Regions from separate parts of the Homo sapiens genome. Here region 2 is linked to region 1. The links come from fine-mapping of genetic effects on gene expression. A gene starts in region 1. The other region holds a variant in brackets. All regions are shown on one strand. Distances are from middle to middle.

Evidence for each region.
Region 2: its variant is fine-mapped to the expression of GNA15 in whole blood (TOPMed, PIP above 0.99).

What each region holds. Positions count from the first base shown.
Region 1 is chr19:3,133,322-3,138,696 of GRCh38, forward strand. It overlaps GNA15 (G protein subunit alpha 15), which reads left to right and starts at 2,712. Exons shown (of 7, transcript NM_002068.4): 1 at 2,712-3,274. The coding sequence starts at 3,130.
Region 2 is chr19:3,160,234-3,165,608 of GRCh38, forward strand. It overlaps GNA15 (G protein subunit alpha 15), which reads left to right. Exons shown (of 7, transcript NM_002068.4): 7 at 2,560-3,516. The coding sequence ends at 2,786. Among named protein-coding and RNA genes, the nearest start is that of GNA15-DT, 7.7 kb to the left of the region's middle. RefSeq lists enhancers at 2,218-2,512, 2,316-3,177, 3,178-4,038. The variant C/A (reference allele first, on the strand shown) is at 3,229.

The DNA of each region.
Region 1 (5,375 bases):
GCTGGTCATTTCTGTTTCAACCATCCTGGAAGATCTGCACGGCCATGACCTATTTCTGCGTTTCTTTGCCTGTCCTGGGTGGGACTGCCCCTCGTTGCTGCTATCCGGTTGGGGGCGGGAAGGTGGGTGGCTGGGTGGGCAGATGGCACCTGCCAGCCCCAGTGACCAGATGGGGGCCCCTATCGTACTTCCCATCTGTCATTCGTTATGAATCAACAGTGGAGAAAACCACACGTTTGTGCTGAGCTGGTGAAGCTGCGTCAACGGCTGTCACCGAGCCCTGGTGTCTGGGAGGAGGTGGGGACGGTGGCTGCCAATGGCTGTGTGGCCCTGGGCACGTAATTCGCCCTCTCTGTGCCTTGCCCTATCTGTAAAGGGACCAGAGGCCCCCGAAGTACAAGAATTACGTGTATCTCTTGGGGAGGAGAGTTTTGATCCAGAACTTTCTAGAATTTTCTACAGCCTGTCAATGGGGGTGGGGAATCTTCACCCAAACACTCTGGCTCTGAGTACCTAGGAAGCAGCAACGTTTCTACCAAGCTGCCAGCCACCAGCCCACCCCTAGGGCCCTGAAGTCCCAGAGGGATCAGGTCAGGGCGGCCTCATGGCACTCATTGGGAAGATCTCCTTGACCAGTGAGGTCCACTCCCAAAGTCCCTCTTACACCCGATCTGCCTGTCTGACTTCTGATCCTGAATATCACTTGTCTGTGCGACCTTTGTTGATCCATTTAGAGCAATGACCTTGAACCTTCCCCAACAACATCTCTGCTTAATTTTTCTGGCAGAATTTTTCACCATCCAACGGGCTCAGGTGTATTAAAAAATATATATATTTTACACGTGTGTGTATATATATACACACATATATATTTTTATGTATAATATACATATATGTATATTAAAATGTATACTTTTATGTGTGTATATATGTATGTGTATATATGTATGTGTGTCTATATATTGTGTATATATATGTATGTGTATATATGTATGTGTATATACATATATGTATGTGTGTCTATATATTGTGTATATATATGTATGTGTATATATATGTATGTGTGTGTGTGTATATATATACATAGAGAGAGAGGGAGAGTTTTGTTTTGTTTGTTTCTGGAGACAGGGTTTCACTATGTTGCCCAGGCTGGAGAGCAGTGTTATGATCTCGGCTCACTGCAGCCTCCATCTTCGGGGTTCAAGTGATTCCCTTGCCTCAGCCTCCCAAGTAGCTGGGACTACTGGTGCGTGCCAACATGCCCAACTAATTTTTGTATTAGTAGAGATGGAGTTTCTCCATGTTGGCCAGGCTGGTCTCAAACTCCTGACTTCAAGTGATCCTCCTGCCTCGGCCTCCCAAAGTACTTTGATTACAGATGTGAGCTCCCGCACTCACCTGGCCAAATTTTTTATTCTTTTATTTTTTATTTTTTTTGAGATGGAGTCTCACTTCGTCGCCAGGCTGGAGTGCAGTGGCACGATCTCAGCTCACTGCCACCTCTGCCTCCCGGGTTCAAGCGATTCTCTTGCCTCAGCCTCCCAAGTAGGTGGGACTACAGGCGTGCACCACCACGCCCGGCTAATTTTTGTATTTTTAGTAGAGACGGGGTTTCGCCGTGTTGGCCAGGCTGGTCTCGATTTCTTGACTTTGTGATCTGCCCGCCTTGGCCTCCCAAAGTATAGGGATTACATGCGTGAGCCACCAGGCCCAGCCTAAAATTTATTTTATTATCTGTTCTTTAACTAGAACCTTAGGTAAGGAGGTCTGGGATCTGTGTCTCTTGGCTACCGTGCCTGGCACACAGTTGGCGCTCCATGAATGCACGCACAATGAAGGGATGGCCCTGCCTGGAATCTGCCTGGTAGGCGTCTAGACTCTGGGGCCCCGCAGGTGAGGGATAGGCTCCCGGCTCTGCCTTGTGCCAGCCCCACCGGTCACTCCCCTGCTCTATGCCTCAACCTCCTCATCAGTCAAACAGGGATGACAGTAGTAACTATACAGGGTGATGTGAGTGTAAAACCAGCTAATGTGAGCCAAAACCCGGCTAATTTTTGTATCTTTAGTAGAGACAGGGTTTCGCCATGTTGGCCAGGCTGGTTTCGAACTCCTGACCTCAGGCAAGCTGCCCACCTCTGCAGGGTGGATCACCTGAGGTCAGGGCAGAGTCGCTGGAAACAGTCCATGACACCTGGCCTGAGCTGTTTCTTAAAAATATATCAGAAGGGCCGAGCGTGGTGGTTTATGCCTGCAATCCCAGCACTTTGGGAGGCCGAGGCGGGTGGATCACCTGAGGTCAGGAGTTTGAGACCAGCCTGGCCAACGTGGTGGAACCCTTTCTCTACTAAAAATCCAAAGTTAGCCCGGCGTGGTGGTGGATGCCTGTAATCCCAGCTACTCGAGAGGCTGAGGCAGGAGAATTGCTTGAACCTGGGAGGCAGATGTTGCAGAGTCAAGATCCTGCCACTGCACTCCAGCCTGGGCAATAAGAGTGAAACTCTGTCTCAAAAAAAAAAAAAAAAATATATATATATATATATATATATATATATATATATATATATATATATACACATATATATATATACACACACATATATATATGATATATATATAATGTATCAGCAGTAGCACGGGTCTGACGGTTCCTGATTGGCTCCGAGGAGGGGGACAGCTCCGGGTGAAGCCTGAGGAGAATCCGCCCCTTCTCCAGAAGGAGGAAGAAGGGCCCTGCTGGTCACACAGGACCCAGTCTGCGGTGGGGGTTTTCCCGCCACCGCCCCGCCCTCCCTGGGGCCCCCACCTCACCCTCTCCTGGCACCCTTCACCGTCAACCTGTCGGGCCGGGTCTGAGCAGGTCTGGAGGTGGGCGGGGAGCCCTGGCCTCCCCACCTCCTCCCGTCCCCACCCTGTTCCCAGCACTCAAGCCTTGCCACCGCCGAGCCGGGCTTCCTGGGTGTTTCAGGCAAGGAAGTCTAGGTCCCTGGGGGGTGACCCCCAAGGAAAAGGCAGCCTCCCTGCGCACCCGGTTGCCCGGAGCCCTCTCCAGGGCCGGCTGGGCTGGGGGTTGCCCTGGCCAGCAGGGGCCCGGGGGCGATGCCACCCGGTGCCGACTGAGGCCACCGCACCATGGCCCGCTCGCTGACCTGGCGCTGCTGCCCCTGGTGCCTGACGGAGGATGAGAAGGCCGCCGCCCGGGTGGACCAGGAGATCAACAGGATCCTCTTGGAGCAGAAGAAGCAGGACCGCGGGGAGCTGAAGCTGCTGCTTTTGGGTGAGTCCAGGGTCGGTGGGCGGTGGGTGGTGGGCAGTGGGCGGTGGCCAGCCGGCAGGGGTGTCGGGGCAAGGAGGCGGATCAGGCTAGGTCAGACATTGGCATCGTGGAGCCGTCGCCTCCTCCCAGGGAATGGGGAGCCTGGAACCCATTTTCCAGATGAGAAAGACTGAGGTTCAGAGAAGCCAAGTTCCTTGTCCAACGTGCGACCAGCGGCCAGGTGCCCAGGCCTGTCCACTGTGTGGGGCATATACAATAGCAGACGTGGCTCTACCGGGCCCCTGCCGGGCAGGCCCAGCACGCCCTACCTGTCTGTGTCATGGCGAGGGAATGATGAGCTCAGGTGTGCAACCCGTTCTGGCCAGCCCACCCGTAAGGGAGGGGCCGGCTCCAGCCTCTCCTTCACCAGGACGCTCCCTCTCGCCTTTACCTCCCTGCCATGGCTGGAGAGGGCTTGTCTAGGGCTCCTTTGGGGGCTAGAAAGGATGGATTGATTGGTTCATTGGTTCATTCATTCATTATTCATTCATTTAAGATTTATTGGGTAGCTCCCAGGAACGAGGCAGCCAAACAGGGGAAGATATTTCTGTCTTCCTGGATCTCATTTCCTGTGAAGGAGCCAAGACATTTAGTCTGTAAACTCATAAGCAGATAAAATAATTCTGGCAACAAGAATTATCTAGGAGAAAACAAAACAGGGTGATGGCTTCCATGCGGAGGCTTCAGATGGGGGAGTCGACGTCAGTAACGGTTCAAGATTCTGAACTCTGGCTGGGTGCAGTGGCTCAAGCCTGTGATTTCAGCACTTTGGGAGGCCCAGGCGGGTGGGATCACTTGAGGTCAGGAGTTCAAGACACAGCCAGGCCAACATGGTGAAGCCCCGTCTCTACTAAAATACCAAAAATTTGCCAGGCATGGTGGCTCATGCCTGTAATCCCAGCACTTTGGGAGGCCGAGGTGGGTGGATCACAAGGTCGGGAGATCGAGACCAGCCTGACCAACACGGTGAAACCCCATCTCTACCAAAATACCAAAAATTAGCCAGATGTGGTGGTGCGTGCCTGTAGTCCCTGCTACTCGGGAGGCTGAGGCAGGGGAATTGCATGAAACCAGGAGGTGGAGACTGCAGTGAGCTGAGATCATGCCACTGCACTCCAGACTGGCGACAGAGTGAGACGCCATCTCAAACAAATAAACAAACAAACAAAACCAAAAATTAGCTGGGCATGGTGGCACACAGCTATAATCCCAGCTACTCGGGAGGCTGAGGCATGAGAATCGCTTGAACCCAGGAGGCAGAGGTTGCAGTGAGCTGAGATCGGGCCACTGCACTCCAGCCTGGATGACAGAGCAAGACTCATTGTCAATAAATAAATAAATATAAATAAAATAAATAAATAAATCATGCCTGTAATCCCAGCACTTTGGGACGCCAAGGCGGGCAGATCACTTGAGGCCAGGAGTTCGAAATCAGCCTGGTCAACGTGGCGAAACCCCGTCTCTACTCAAAATACAAAAAAATTAGCCGGGTGTGGTGGCATGTGCCTGTAATCCCAGCTACTGGGGAGGCTGAGGCAGGAGAATCGCTTGAAACCAGGAGGTGGAGGCTGCAGTGAGCCAGGATTGCACTATTGCACCCCAGCCTGGGCAACAAGAACAAAACTCCGTCTCAAAAAAAAAAAAATTCTGATCTCTGAAACCTCGGGGTCTTCTCATTCCCGTAGCTTGTTTCCCCAATTACCTTTCCCTGATTATGGCCCCGTTGGCCTAAGCCCGGGATGCTAGCCTGGGAGGGTCTTCTGGGATCCCCGAGCTCTGGGTTGGGGGCTGGAGAAGGTCTCAAGTCTTCTGGACTCGCGTTTGTCTGCCCCGGGCAAAGAGCTTGATCATCCCGTGATGGTTGCTATCGTCCTTTCCTCGTTCAGTGGGAAGAGGCCGCCCGAGAGGAAAGAGAGAGAACATCGAGTGGGATGGTGGGGACCCCCAGGAACTGCACCTTCACTGGGGGCCCTTTCTTTCTTTTTTCTTTTCTTATTTTTATTTTTATTTTTTTGAGACGGAGTCTTGCTCTGTCACCCAGGCTGGGGTGCAGTGGTGCGAT
Region 2 (5,375 bases), 27 kb after region 1:
TGGCACTCTTGGCCTCTCTCTCTGTGTCTCTCCCTGCCTCCCTCTCCCATCTCATCTCTCTCTCCTCCCCTTTCTCCTAGTCTGTCTCTCCTTTTCCACCTCCCCTGTTCTCTCTGTCTCCATCTGGGGCCTCATGATCCACAGCCTCTTCACATGGTTTGAGCTTACTCACAATATGGCTGCCTCAGGGTAGACAGACTTCAGCCCAGGTGGAAGCTGCTTCTCATGATAGCCTCAGAAATGTCAGACGTTACTCTGCCACATTCTATTTGTCAAGCACATCACTCATATCAGCCCGGATTCAAAAGAAAGAGACTCCATCTCTTGAAGGCAGCATGACACATGCATACAGGGAGGGAAGGAAGTGACGGCAGCCATCTTGGAGATAACTTGCCTTCATGTCCTGGGGATGCCGTAACAAAGTACCACAAACTGGGTGGCTTAAAACAACAGGAAACAACAGAAGTCCAAAGTTAAGGTATTGGCAAGGTTGGTTCCTTTTGGAGGCTCTAAGGGAAAATCCATTCCATGCTTCTCTCTCAGCTTCTGGTGGTGGCCTACAATCCTTAGCTTGTAGACATATCACTGCAATCTCTGCCTCCATGTTCACATGGCTGTCTTCTCACCATGCCTTTATGTGTCCTCTCCTGTTGTTATAAGGCCACCAGTCATTGGATTTAGGGCCCATACTTTGGTATGACCACTTTTTTTTTTTTTTTTTTTTTTTGAGACAAGGTCTTGCTCTGTTGCCCAGGCTAGAGTCCAGTGGTGTGATCACAGTTCACTGCAGCCTCAACCTCCTGGGCACAGGTGATCCTCCCACCTCAGCCTCTTGAGTTGCTGGGACTACAGGCGCACACCACCACACCTGGGTAATTTTTGTATATTTCTGTAGAGACAGGGTTTCGCCATGTTGCCCAGGCTGATCTGGAACTCCTGGGCCCAACCACACATCTGTCATCCACCTGCCTTGGCCTTCCAAAGTGCTAGGATTACAGGCGTGAGCCCTCATGCCTGGCCATGACCTAATTTAACTTAACTAATTACATCTGCAAATATCCGATTTCTAAAAGTCATATTCTGAAGTTCCAGGTGGACATGAATTTTGGGGGACACTGTTCACCTCAATATACAAGCAACCATAGTAGATGAGTCCTTAGTACATGCTTGACACCAGGTCCACAATCAGTAAACATAAACTTTGGTGAAGTCACCAGGTTTTGATCCCTGGTCTTGTCATGTCTCAGAGCCCATGAGGCCAATTTTAGCCAATTATACCCACAAGATTCAGGGTCTGGGAGATAGACGTCAAGTTGTTCCAGGATGGTGGCCTGGATAGCCCCTCTTCCTTGCCAAGCAGCCCTGGGAATCAGCTCATAGTTTAGAGAATTTGGGAACAGGATAAGGTAGATATTTTTTTCATTCAGGTCAAAGGGAACCACCCATGACTCATCCTTGTCTCCCAGCACAAGTGACTGGTGCACTCTTTGCTGACTCCCAGCCCTACCCTCCACTGTGCTAAATAATATTTGTGATAATAATAAGAAACCACACTTTGGGAGGCTGAGGCGCGCAGATCGCTTTAGGTCAGGAGTTTGAGACCAGCCTGGCCAACATGGCAAAGCCCCATCTCTGTTAAAAATACAAAAATTAGCTGGGTGTGGTGGCGGGGGCCTGTCATCCCAGTTACTCGGGAGGCTGAGGCAGGAGAATCGCTTGAACCCAGGAGGTGGAGGTTGCAGTGAGCTGAGATCATGCCACTTCACTCCAACCTGGGTGACAGAGTGAGACTCTGTCTCAAAATAATAATAATAATAATAATGATAATAATAATAAAATTGATAACAGCAGCTAACACATCTACCGCACTGGTGGAAGCACTCTACAAAGCTTCTTTAATCTTCATGTTAAAACCCTATGCAGGGCTGGGCACAGTGGCTCACGCCTGTAATCCCAGCGCTTTGGGGGGGTCAAGGCGGGCTGATCATTTGAGGTCAGGAGTTCGAGACCAGCCTGGCCAACATGGCAAAACCCCATCTCTACTAAAAATACAAAAATTACCTGGGCATGGTGGCAGGCGCCTGTAATCCCAGCTACTGCCAAGATTGCACCATTGCACTCCAGCCTGGGCGACAGAGCGAGGCCCCATCTCAAGAAAAAAAAAAAGAGGACTCTCTTCCCCTCGTTTGGCCTTGATGCCGCCATCTTCACAGTCCTGGGATATTTGTCTATGCGATTCCAGTCTTCCAACTGCACTGGCTGTAAGCGAGGCCAAGAGAGTGTCTCTCTTTAACACAGTTCTGCCCGAAGTCCCAGAGCTGGGTCTCATTGGTCCATTTCAGGTCACATGACTCGTGTGAGACAATCTCCTGTGTTCCCATTGGCTGGGCCGGAGTCGTGTGACCAGCTATGACTACAAAAGATGGAGTCAACGCACAGAAAAATGACAGGCGCGATCCCTGGGTCCCTTCAGTGCTGGTTACAGGGAAGAGGGTCTCCAGAGGCCCCCTGGGTCCAAAGAGGGAGGGTCCTCACCCCCTTCCCACACTGTTTCCCCAGGCCCTAAGCAGGATGCTGAGGCAGCCAAGAGGTTCATCCTGGACATGTACACGAGGATGTACACCGGGTGCGTGGACGGCCCCGAGGGCAGCAAGAAGGGCGCACGATCCCGACGCCTCTTCAGCCACTACACATGTGCCACAGACACACAGAACATCCGCAAGGTCTTCAAGGACGTGCGGGACTCGGTGCTCGCCCGCTACCTGGACGAGATCAACCTGCTGTGACCCAGGCCCCACCTGGGGCAGGCGGCACCGGCGGGCGGGTGGGAGGTGGGAGTGGCTGCAGGGACCCCTAGTGTCCCTGGTCTATCTCTCCAGCCTCGGCCCACACGCAAGGGAGTCGGGGGACGGACGGCCCGCTGCTGGCCGCTCTCTTCTCTGCCTCTCACCAGGACAGCCGCCCCCCAGGGTACTCCTGCCCTTGCTTGACTCAGTTTCCCTCCTTTGAAAGGGAAGGAGCAAAACGGCCATTTGGGATGCCAGGGTGGATGAAAAGGTGAAGAAATCAGGGGATTGAGGACTTGGGTGGGTGGGCATCTCTCAGGAGCCCCATCTCCGGGCGTGTCACCTCCTGGGCAGGGTTCTGGGACCCTCTGTGGGTGACGCACACCCTGGGATGGGGCTAGTAGAGCCTTCAGGCGCCTTCGGGCGTGGACTCTGGCGCACT[C/A]TAGTGGACAGGAGAAGGAACGCCTTCCAGGAACCTGTGGACTAGGGGTGCAGGGACTTCCCTTTGCAAGGGGTAACAGACCGCTGGAAAACACTGTCACTTTCAGAGCTCGGTGGCTCACAGCGTGTCCTGCCCCGGTTTGCGGACGAGAGAAATCGCGGCCCACAAGCATCCCCCCATCCCTTGCAGGCTGGGGGCTGGGCATGCTGCATCTTAACCTTTTGTATTTATTCCCTCACCTTCTGCAGGGCTCCGTGCGGGCTGAAATTAAAGATTTCTTAGAGGCTGCGTCGCCAGCGTCCTGTTTATCCCCTCTGCATTCCTTTCTCGGCTTACGTGTCCCGGGGGCAGTGCTTACAGTGCGGGGAGCAACGTGGAGTAGGAAGGAAAAAAGTTATACTTCTTGTCTACCCACCTGTCCTGGCCATGGTACCCAGAACTGTGGAGGCTGTGAGTCCCGCAAGCCGGGACGTGGAGTCCAACCTCCCTCCCAGGCTGGGGGGGACATTGAAGCAGACTCCTCCGTGGCTACTGACCTGAAATTCCAGTAGCAGCCCCCACCCAGCTTTGAGAAGGCCTCTTACTATCCTCAGGGCAGTGTTCTGGGGTGCAAGCCGTAGCACCCCACTTTACAGGTGAGGAAACCGGGGCGCAGAGAAGTGGAGTAATTTGACTAAGCTCACACACCTGGAATTGACAGAGGCAGGAGCCTGTTCCTACGTTGAACACATTTGTGGTTTTTTATTTGTTTGTTTTTTGAGACAATCTCACTTGGTTGCCCAGGCTGGAGTGCAGTGGTGCGATCTCGGTTCACTGCAGCCTCTGCCTCCTGGGTTCAAGTGATTCTCATGCCTCAGCCTCTGCAGTAGCTGAGATTACAGGCACCCGCCACCACACCTGGCTACTTTTTTTTTTTTTGATGGAGTCCCGCTCTGTGGCCCAGGCTGGAGTGCAGTGGCGCAATCTCGTCTCACTGCAACCTCCACCTCCCAGGTTCAAGTGATTCTCCTGCCTCAGCCTCCTGAGTAGCTTGGACTACAGTTGTGTGCCATCACACCTGGCCATATTTTTGTATTTTTAGTAGAGACAGGGTTTCACCATGTTGGCCAAACTGGTCTCAAACTCCTGACCTCAAGTGATCCGCCTCCCTCGACCTCCCAAAGTGCTGGGATTACAGGCATGAGCCACCACACCTGGCCTAATTTTTCTTCTTATAAAAACACTAGTCACACTGGATCAGGGTCCAGCCTGTCATCCCCATCTTAACTTGATTACATCGGCAAAGACCGTATTTCTAAATAAGGTCCCATTCACAGATACCGGGGGTTATGACTTCATCATATCTTTGTAGGGGAGCCACATTTGAACCTATAAAAGGTATTTTGTAATACAAAAAGGAGCCGGGCGTGGTGGTGCATGCTTGCAATCCCAGCTAATTGGGAGGCTGAAGCATGAGAGTTGCTTGAACCCGGGAGGCGGAGGTTGCGGTGAGCCAAGATCCTGCCACTGCACTCTAGCCTGAGCGACAGAGTGAGACCTTGTCTCAAATAATAAATAAATAAATACATAAATAAATAAATAAATATAAAAGTATGTTATAGAAACCCTCTCCACTGAGTTTGGTCTGACATTTTGCTGCTGGTCAGACTGGGGTGATGGGTTTCAGGGAGGAAGACCTCAGTGGTGACAGCCCTTCTCACCACATCCTATCTTTCTGTTTTTTTTTTGAGACGGAGTCTCACTCTGTCACCCAGGCTGGAAGTGCAGTGGTGTGATCTCGGCTCACTGCAAGCTCCGCCTCCCAGGTTCACACCATTCTCCTGCCTCAGCCTCCCGAGTAGCTGGGATTACAGGCGCCCGCCACCACGCCTGGCTAATTTTTTGTATTTTTAGTAGAGACGGGCTTTCACCGTGTTAGCCAGGATGGTCTCAATCTCCTGACCTTGTGATCCGCCCGCCTCGGCCTCCCGAAGTGCTGGGATTACAGGTGTGAGCCACCGCGCTCTGCCTCTTGTTGTTGTTTTGTAAGAATTTTAGACTCACAGAAAAGTTGCAGAAGTTGTACACAGTTCCCAAATGCCCTCCACCCAGCTTCCTCTTACCTCTTACGTAACCCTAGTACAACCCAGGAAATTCACATCAGCGAG